Linked DNA regions of Homo sapiens: region 2 is linked to region 1. Evidence: fine-mapped expression QTL. A gene starts in region 1. The other region holds a variant in brackets. All regions are shown on one strand. Distances are from middle to middle.

What was found. PIP is the estimated chance that this variant, and not a neighbour inherited with it, causes the effect.
Region 2: its variant is the best candidate, but not a certain one, in a credible set for the expression of KIF25 in vagina (GTEx, PIP 0.74).

What each region holds. Positions count from the first base shown.
Region 1 is chr6:167,995,087-167,999,463 of GRCh38, reverse strand. KIF25 (kinesin family member 25) reads right to left here and starts at 1,793. Exons shown (of 13, transcript NM_030615.4): 1 at 594-1,793; 2 at 144-372. KIF25-AS1 (KIF25 antisense RNA 1) reads left to right here and starts at 2,387. Exons shown (of 4, transcript NR_103750.1): 1 at 2,387-2,558; 2 at 2,863-3,226; 3 at 3,361-3,951.
Region 2 is chr6:168,040,842-168,045,218 of GRCh38, reverse strand. It overlaps KIF25 (kinesin family member 25), which reads right to left. Exons shown (of 13, transcript NM_030615.4): 11 at 3,068-3,250; 12 at 2,503-2,658; 13 at 128-392. The coding sequence ends at 223. It overlaps LOC105378135 (a long non-coding RNA gene), which reads left to right. Exons shown (of 3, transcript XR_943283.2): 3 at 1-25. Among named protein-coding and RNA genes, the nearest start is that of FRMD1, 36 kb to the left of the region's middle. The variant A/G (reference allele first, on the strand shown) is at 2,311.

The DNA of each region.
Region 1 (4,377 bases):
TTAAACAGAGCCCCCACCCACAACTCGAGAATGTCCTGCTTTGGGACCGGGGACAGGACAGTAGACGGCATTTAAAATTGTGCCACTCCTCTGTCTTTTCCCTGAGCACACAGACATACACACACCGTGCAAACACAGGTTACCTGCTCTGCAAAACTGGATCGTCGGATTCACTATCAAAAGGCAACAAAGGACGAATCCGACAGTGAACTCTGATATTTCGTTTCAGCTCCTGCAATGATCAAGAGGTCTGCGTGTCAACCCGGGCGCGAGCCTGCACTGCGGAGCATCCCCCACTGAACGTGCACCGGGCACCAGCTCCTGAGACGCGGCCGTGAGATCTGCAGCACCTGTCTCCACTTCGAAAGACCCCTGCAGGGTAGTGAACAGTTATTTTATTTATTTATTTTTTGAGCCAGAGTCTTGCTCTGTCGCCCAGGCTGGAGTGCAGTGATGCAATCTCAGCTCACTGCGACCTCCGCCTCCCAGGTTCAAGTGATTCTCCTGCCTCAGCCCCCAGAGTAGCTGGGATGACAGGTGCCCACCACCACGCCCAGCTAATTTTTGTATTTTTAGTACAGAAGGGTTTTTACCATGTTGGCCAAGCTGGTCTCGAACTCCTGACCTCAGGTAATGCGCCCGCCTCGGCCTCCCAAAGTTCTGGGATTATAGGCATGAGCCACCGTGCCCGGCCATGAACAGTTATTTTAAACTTCTGGATTCATACTTCACAAATGTGTTCACTTGGCAAAGGGGTATCCCTTGGTAATAAGTACCAAGGAAAATCCCTTTGAATGGCATCCTGGGCTCGACATTTTAGGCATTTTAGAGGGGATTTTGGAAATTCAGTATCTGTCATATTTCCTTGATTTAATGACTGGAAGGAAATTAGAAGCTTTTTATTCTCATAAACTCCACTGGTTTCCAGTGAGCAACACATCTTCTCCGTATGTGCTCAGAACTTGCCAAATCCATTCTGAAATCTTGTCTTGGATCCACAGCAAGTTTATCCACCCTGTCATGCTGAGCAGCTCCTTCTACATTTTGAAAACCAAGTGGGTGTCATAGGCCAATGATTTACAGCCTCCGTCTGGTCTCTATGAACCCACAGAAGCTGGGATCAGCCTCTGCCTGCATATTCTCCATGGGCCGCGCACTGCACGCTCCTCAGCTAGACCAGGAGACCAGGCTTGAGGTGGAACACTCAGAAACTTCCACAACCAATTCTTCCTTGTGGGACTTGACTCCATCTTAGGAAGGTTCATATTATCTTTTTCATGCTCCAGATTAAAAAAAAAAAAAGCTGCAGCGTAGTGAGACTTTCTGAAGTGCCAGGTGCTTCACTGATATCTCCCTTTGTCTTTATAGCAACCCAGAGAGGTGGTGCTATTGTGAAGATTAAATAAGAAAATACACCAAATGGTTTCAAAAGTACTTGGTACACAGGAAGCACTCAATAAATGTTCTCTTATATCAATGTTTGGAGCACTGAACTACATAAGTAGATGCTTAAAATGAGAATTATTCTTTGACACATCTAACAGCTGGAGAACCTCTCGGCATGGCCAGGGAAGAGAAGCTTCGCAGGAACACTGGCTTCGTGGGCCTCGGGCAGGTGGAATTCGGAGAAACTGGCCAAAGTGCAACCATCAAAATCAAACCTCACAGAAGCGAGGGTCACCCACTCAATCATCCACCTTGGCATCCTCGTGTTGCAAAATCAAACCCTGAGACTTTACATTAAATTTCATGGGATCTCAGGTCTCATACCTTCGACCAAGAAAGCACGAGAGCCTCTGGGTCTTGTTAATGGGCAGTGAGAGACGTGGGTGGAAGGTGCTGGTGAGGAAGGGGCAGGGGCAGGGGCAGGGGCAGTCTCCACCGGCATCTCCAGTTACAGCAAAATCCTTGCTTTTCCCGCGCAAGTCCCCATCTCTGCAGATTCCCCCGCCCCCCATCTCTGCAGATTCCCCCGCCCCCCATCTCTGCAGATTCCCCCGACCCCCCATCTCTGCAGATTCCCCCGCCCCCCATCTCTGCAGATTCCCCCGCCCCCCATCTCTGCAGATTCCCCCGCCCCCCATCTCTGCAGATTCCCCCGCCCCCATCTCTGCAGATTCCCCCGCCCCCATCTCTGCAGATTCCCCCGCCCCCACCTCTGCAGATTCCCCCGACCCCCCATCTCTGCAGATTCCCCCGCCCCCCATCTCTGCAGATTCCCCCGACCCCCCATCTCTGCAGATTCCCCCGCCCCCCATCTCTGCAGATTCCCCCGCCCCCATCTCTGCAGATTCCCCCGCCCCCATCTCTGCAGATTCCCCCGCCCCCAACTGCCCGCTACAGCTCTTTCCTTGTGCCTCACAGCAGCCGGTCCCACTTCCTGCATCGCCACCAATGTGGCCCAGGCCACCAGCCCCCGTGACACTGCAGCCATCCCCTTTGCTCCCCGTCGTGGCCTCCCGACCGAGCAGCCAGAGTGACCCCGAAAGCCTAAATCAGCCTGCGGCGCCCTCACCCGTCCTCCAGCTGCCATCGCCTCCTGGGTGAAGAGGACGCAGGTCGCAGCCCCCGCAGCTCTGCCCCTCTGCCCTCCGGCCAGGCCGCCCCGCTGTCCCCCTTGCTGTCCACCTCTCTGTCCACCCCTGCTGTCCCCCCCCGCTGTCCCCCCCGCTGTCACACCCCCGCTGTCCCCCCCCCGCTGTCCCCCCTGTTGTCCCCCCGCTGTCCCTCCCGCTGTCCCTCCGGCGAGGAGGCTTCTGCACGTTCTGCGTGGGCCTCTCCCCGGGGCCGCCCCAGGTCTCCCCTGACGCCCACACCCACCACCAGGCTGTTGTGCGGGACCTTCCTTCTCTGCCTCTCCAGCTGGTGACGCGCACTGACGTCCTGCAAGGCCCGCTCCAGGTGCGCCACCTTTGACTGGCATGCTGAAAGGACAAAGGGACGGAGGCATTTTACCGGAGAGGACATCCATGGGGCCCAGCAGGTCAAATTCCTTTCTCTAAGTATGGGAGACATTTTTAAAAATAATGGAGTCCTCCAGGGCCGGCTGCGTGCTGTGGCCTGTGCTCCTCACTGCTTTGGACCCAGGCTGCGCTGTCTCCACCACGACCAAGGACTCACAGAGCTCGCCTGGGGGACCTGGCCCCACAGTCACCCCGTCCGTCATCAGCCTCAAATGCCATCAGCCCGTGAATGCTGCTCCATCGTCTGCATGGCAGCCAAGGAGGTCTCTGCTCCTAAAGCACCTGGGAGCCCTTGGTGAGGGGGGAGTGGGGCAGGGAAGGAGATGCTGGGGCCCAGCTCTGCTGCTGTGGATTGTTACAGTGGCCTGGGCCTCTACTCCCGCCTCTGTCCTACCAGGATGGTGCCAGGTGATGTGGCGATGAGTGGGCATCGCGTGGGGGCCTTGGACGAGCGTGGACACCCCAATCCCCAGACTGGCCATTGCCGTGGAGGCAGCGTGAGTGTGACATGGAGCTCGGTGTCGTGCTGCAGAGGACGCCTCGCGGCTGTACGCGTCATGATAGCCAGGGACCCCTCCACATGTCACTTAGCCAAAGGATGCAGCCCAGCCTGGGGCTTTCTACCCCAGGCCCGAGGACCTGCAGGGACAAGGACCCCTCAGCGCAGATGCAGCTCTCATGAGGCCTGAAACCAAGCTGGACTTGCAGAACTGCGCACGCTCCCTTTCTGAAAGAAACACCCGTTACCGGGTCCAGACTGAATGTGGGCGTAAGAAAGCGGGAAGGGTCCCCCACAGCAAGAGAGAGACCCTCCCAGTCACTTGGTCATCTGAGCCTTGAGTGTGTCCGGCCCCAGCCACCAGCCTGTCCCCACTATCCCTCTTGTCAGCACGGCTGAAAGGAGCTGCCTGGGCACCTGAGGTGGCTGAGGCTCATCTTTGAGGAGCATGGAACTCGAGGGGAGAAGTCGCGCCCCCAGGGAAGCCAGGTAAGGAGGCCCCGAGCCCCTGAGCCTAACGCCTGGGCACAAATAAGCCGCCTGGGGACCCCTCTGTGTGGCAGGACTGCACCGTGGCTCCCACAGGCAGGGCCTCAGCAGGCCCTGCCTCCTCACACGTCAGCATTCCCTCTGCGGGAGAGCCTTGGCGGCTCCCTGCTTCTCCCTTTGAGTTTCACCTTTTCAAAGCTTAAGTACACTGCTTTTCACAAAATAACATGATTGTCCCTTTCCCTGGAGCACATGGCTTATAAGAACACAGGCGTTGCCGGCTGTGGTGGCTCGTGCCTGTAATCCCAGCACTTTGGGAGGCTGAGGCGGGCAGATCACCCGAGGTCAGGAGTTCGAGACCAGCCTGGCCAACATGGTAAAACCCCATCTCTACTAAAAATACAAAATTAGCCAGGCGTGGTGGCA
Region 2 (4,377 bases), 46 kb before region 1:
CTGTGACACCTGGTGGCCGCCGCACTGCAAGGAGCTCCTCTGTGAAGCCTGCCCTGCCTGATGGTCTGGCAGGAGTTGGAGGTCCCATCCACATTCATGAGGGTGCTTTGGAATAAAGCCAGGTTTATTGAGTCCACGTGAAACCTGTTTATTTCTAAGCACATATGCATTATAAAGCAAGGACAAGAAACACAGTTTTAGGAGAAAAACTTGTTAATGCATTCAATCCGGCCTCCTCTTCCCCTCCGTTTGGGAGCTGGGCGGCTTCTTTCGGGCAGGGCCTCGCTGGACTTGCCGAGCTCGGATCCCGAAACCCAGGCCCTGCAACGTCTGTGCCAGGTGCCTCTGGCTGGGAGAAATGCAGAGAATCACCAGTAACTTCGCATCGCCTCCTTTAAAATAGAAAAACAACATGCAAGCTGGAAAGAAGAGCAGCATCTGAAAGTGCCAACATGCCAGCAACCAGGGCCCGAGATGGGCGGCTGCAGAGAGGGCCGCCCGGCGCCCCAGCGGGAAAGTGGCCACGTCTGGCAGGTTCCTGGGACGGGGGTCCAGGAGGGTCAGCAGCCGGTCACTAGCGCCCCTCACCCGGGTCCGGGAGGGTCAGCAGCCGGTCACTAGCACCCCTCACCCTCCGGGAGGGTCAGCAGCCGGTCACTAGCACCCCTCACCCCGGTCAGGGAGGGTCAGCAGCCAGTCACTAGCGTCCCTCACCTGGGTCCGGGAGGGTCAGCAGCCGGTCACTAGCACCCCTCACCCAGGTCCCGGAGGGTCAGCAGCCGGTCACTAGCACCCCTCACCCGGGTCCGGGAGGGTCAGCAGCCGGTCACTAGCGTCCCTCACCTGGGTCCGGGAGGGTCAGCAGCCGGTCACTAGCACCCCTCACCCTCCGGGAGGGTCAGCAGCCGGTCACTAGCATCCCTCACCTGGGTCCGGGAGGGTCAGCAGCCGGTCACTAGCACCCCTCACCCTCCGGGAGGGTCAGCAGCCGGTCACTAGCACCCCTCACCCTCTGGAAGGGTCAGCAGCCGGTCACTAGCACCCCTCACCTGGGTCCGGGAGGGTCAGCAGCCGGTCACTAGCGCCCCTCACCTGGGGAAGCTGCAGGCCTTCTACTCACACTCCTGTGTCCCGGGAATTGGGAGGTATGAAGTCAGCCCTAGGTTGAGTCTGCACATGACCCTGAGGGACGCTCAGCCCCCTGGGGCTGTTCTTTCTAGATCTCCCTCATGCCCACACCTGCTGCTCACGGCCCATGGCCCTGTGGCTCCCTCAGGCCCCCCTGGGGCAGGGGCCGTGTGCCCAGGACTTCTCCTCCTGAGGAATGCTGTCTCTTCCTGTTTTTCAGGACCCGTAACGAGGGTTAAGAATTACAGATGAAAACCAAAAACAGTGGAGAAGGAAGGGAGAGCTAAGGGGGAGGAAAAGTGCAGACCCCAGAGGCCAAGGCCAGGGCTCCATGAGGGACCTGCTGGCTCTCAGGTACTGTGTGCCCCACGGTGCCGCCCCTGAGATCACGGGTGGGCTGTGCCCCTGACCCAGGTCGCCCTGTCTCTCTGTTGGGGCTGCGAACTTTGGAATCCAAGAGTACCAGGTGGTCTCTCTCTTAAAGGCAGAATCCAAAAATATGCTCCTGTGAACAGCCCTGTTATTCACCGTGTGGAGGAAGCCAATTTGCCATGAGAGGGGGAAATACCCCACAATGAGAGACAGGGAGAGTGTCTGGAACATTCCAGCCTCCCCGAGTCCCGAGCACCAGCGGCCCCTCCACCACCTCCCAGGGTGGCCCTCCCAGGAAGGAGGAGCCCCCCGACTGTGGTGGCCATGTGCCCCTGCCGTCCTGCAGTGGCCGTTTCTCAGGACACGGCCTACAGGGCCCAGGGCCACCTCTGGGGGACTCTGCCTGCACCCTGAGTCAGGAAGAGCCGCAATGCTTCCTCGGGTCCTCCCTTTCAACCAGTCTGGAGTCTGAGTCGGGGGAGGGGGCACTAACTGAGCTCCCCAAAAACCGCAAAGCCCAGATCCAGCCACAGCTGGATGACTCCACACAGGGGCCGCCTGTGCCCCACCTGGCACTGGTGCTTAATCTGTTGCGTCCAGGCTTCTGGCACCTGCCCCCAAAAGACCCAAGGAACTTGGGGCCTAAGCAGGTCTACACAGCCGGAGGGACCCAGGCCACACATGCAGCAGCAGCCTAGAGAGCCCTCAGCTGCTCTGGCGGACCCCTGGTGAAGAGAAAGGCCAGGGCTGCCACCCTTGAGAAACTGAGCCCCAACCAGGAGGCAAGTCACACACAGACCGAACAAGCAC[A/G]CAATCAGGCCAAGGTGAGACGGCGCAGGAGAATGACCACCGTGCCGTGGGAGTGCCAGCTAGCCACAGCGAGGACACAGGAGGTGCAGGGGGTGCATGGGTGGCCCTCGAGGACGTGCAGGCCAGAAGTGTGTGCACATGTCCTGGGGTACGTGGTCCCCCATCCTGGGGCATTTTGGGGAAAACGGTTACCGAGGCAGTCCTGAAGGAGGTGGGTGAGCCTGCTGTTCCGGTACGGGGCATGGCCACGGTGCTCCAACAAAGCCCCCAGGACGCCTGCCAGGGCCGCAAGGCTGCGGCTGATGCACGCCATCTCCCTCAGGGCCAACCCGGTCACTCCAGACACACCTGGACAGGACCGCCACGCACCATCACCGTTTGCACCAAGAAAGGAGGCAGGAAAAGCAAAACCGGCTCCTTGGGAGGAGCGGCTCTCAGGCAGGTAGAGGGGAGGCCATGGACGGGACAGGCATGAGAGTGAGTGTCTTTCATGGCTCTGCTCACAGCTCAAAGCGAGCTCCTGCTGGGAACTCAGGTTTTCTGTTCCCAGAGGGCCCGTGTGAGGAACACGACTCTCGGGTTGCCGGGGTAAGAGAACCAATCCCTGAGAATGTAACGGGATTTGGAACTCACCTGTGGAGGGGGAAATGCCTGGCTCGCCCAGAGCTTCCCGGGCTGCCTGGTTGCACATCCAGCTCCATCAGATCATAGGCTTCTGCAGCACCCACCCCCCAGGGAAATGCCTGCCCCTGCTCACCAACGCACTCGCTGCCGGCCGAGTCCACGAGCTGTAGTCGAGCCTGCACCTGCTCCGCATGCCCTGCGGGGTTCCCAGGAACCAGCTGTGGAGCCAAGGCCCCTTGAGAAGCTCTGCGGCTCCTTCCTGCCCTTCCTGCCTCTGTTTGCTCCCTGGGGAGGGTGGCACTGCAGGCTTGGTCTGCTGCAAGGGACCAAGGAGCGACGAGGAGGAAAACAGTTGCATGAAGCCATGAGGCTGTGCTTTGCCTCAGTCAGAGCCGAGAAGCTTCTGAACTGCACCCTCCTGCCCACACCTCCCACCCAGTAAGAAGTGGGATTTCCGCAGAGGTCCAGGGGATAGTGGCTTCTCTGGGGGAAAACACAAGTTAGAAAGCAGCTTTCTTCACTGTGGAAGGTTGAACTAATGCCTAATTGGCCCAGAGGAAATCAAATAATGCTTCTTAGGAAGACTTGGTAATCATGTTAATTAAAATCCCACTCAGAAAATCTATGAGCCCTTTTAGAAATAAATTCTACAATCTGTTCGATAATCTTCCACACAAATCCTAACAAAAGGGCTCTTAATTTTAATGCAAATGTCTTTGTAGTGTGTTATTCCTAAACAAACTTCTTAGGTTTTTTAAAAAAGCAAAATAACATTTATTCACTGTGCAAAACATAGAAAGTATACACAATTTTTTTTAAAGGACATGAAATCCGGTCTTATTCCCACCACCACTGGCAGCCACACCGCCCCTGTATCGGGAGCGTTTTTGGTAGAGATTGTTGGTGTTCCCTAAACATCACACGCCTGTGCCTTTCCAGCCCCTGCGGTACAAGGCCGTGTGCCCAGCTGTGGCCCACTCTGGGCTGGCCAGGGGCTATTGTCAGCACCTCCCCGTCACCTCTCCTTCCCTTGCCTGAGCAACCTTGGAGGCCAAATGTTTCAAGTGCCACGGTGGCAAGAAGGATGGGGAATGTTCAGCCACACTGGCCTTCAATATGAGTGAGAAATGGCCTTTCCAGTGTCAACCCACTGAGACCAGGTTTTGATGGGACTACAGTCTCATGTTCCGGCCCCAGACCCGTGGCTCTCCAGGTGTGGTCCCCGGAGCCGCATCCTTGCAGAAACGCACACTCTGGGTCCAGTCCCAGCCCTGCTGAACCTGAGCATGGGTGGTGTCTGCTATTAGTTCCCACCACCTGCTGCAGGGAATTGGACGCAGCTCAAGTTTGAGAGTTGCAGCCCAGGCTTCACAGGCCTGTGTTCTTTCTGTTACATAACTGGAATCATTTTATATACTACATAGTTTGAAATTTTGGTTTTAA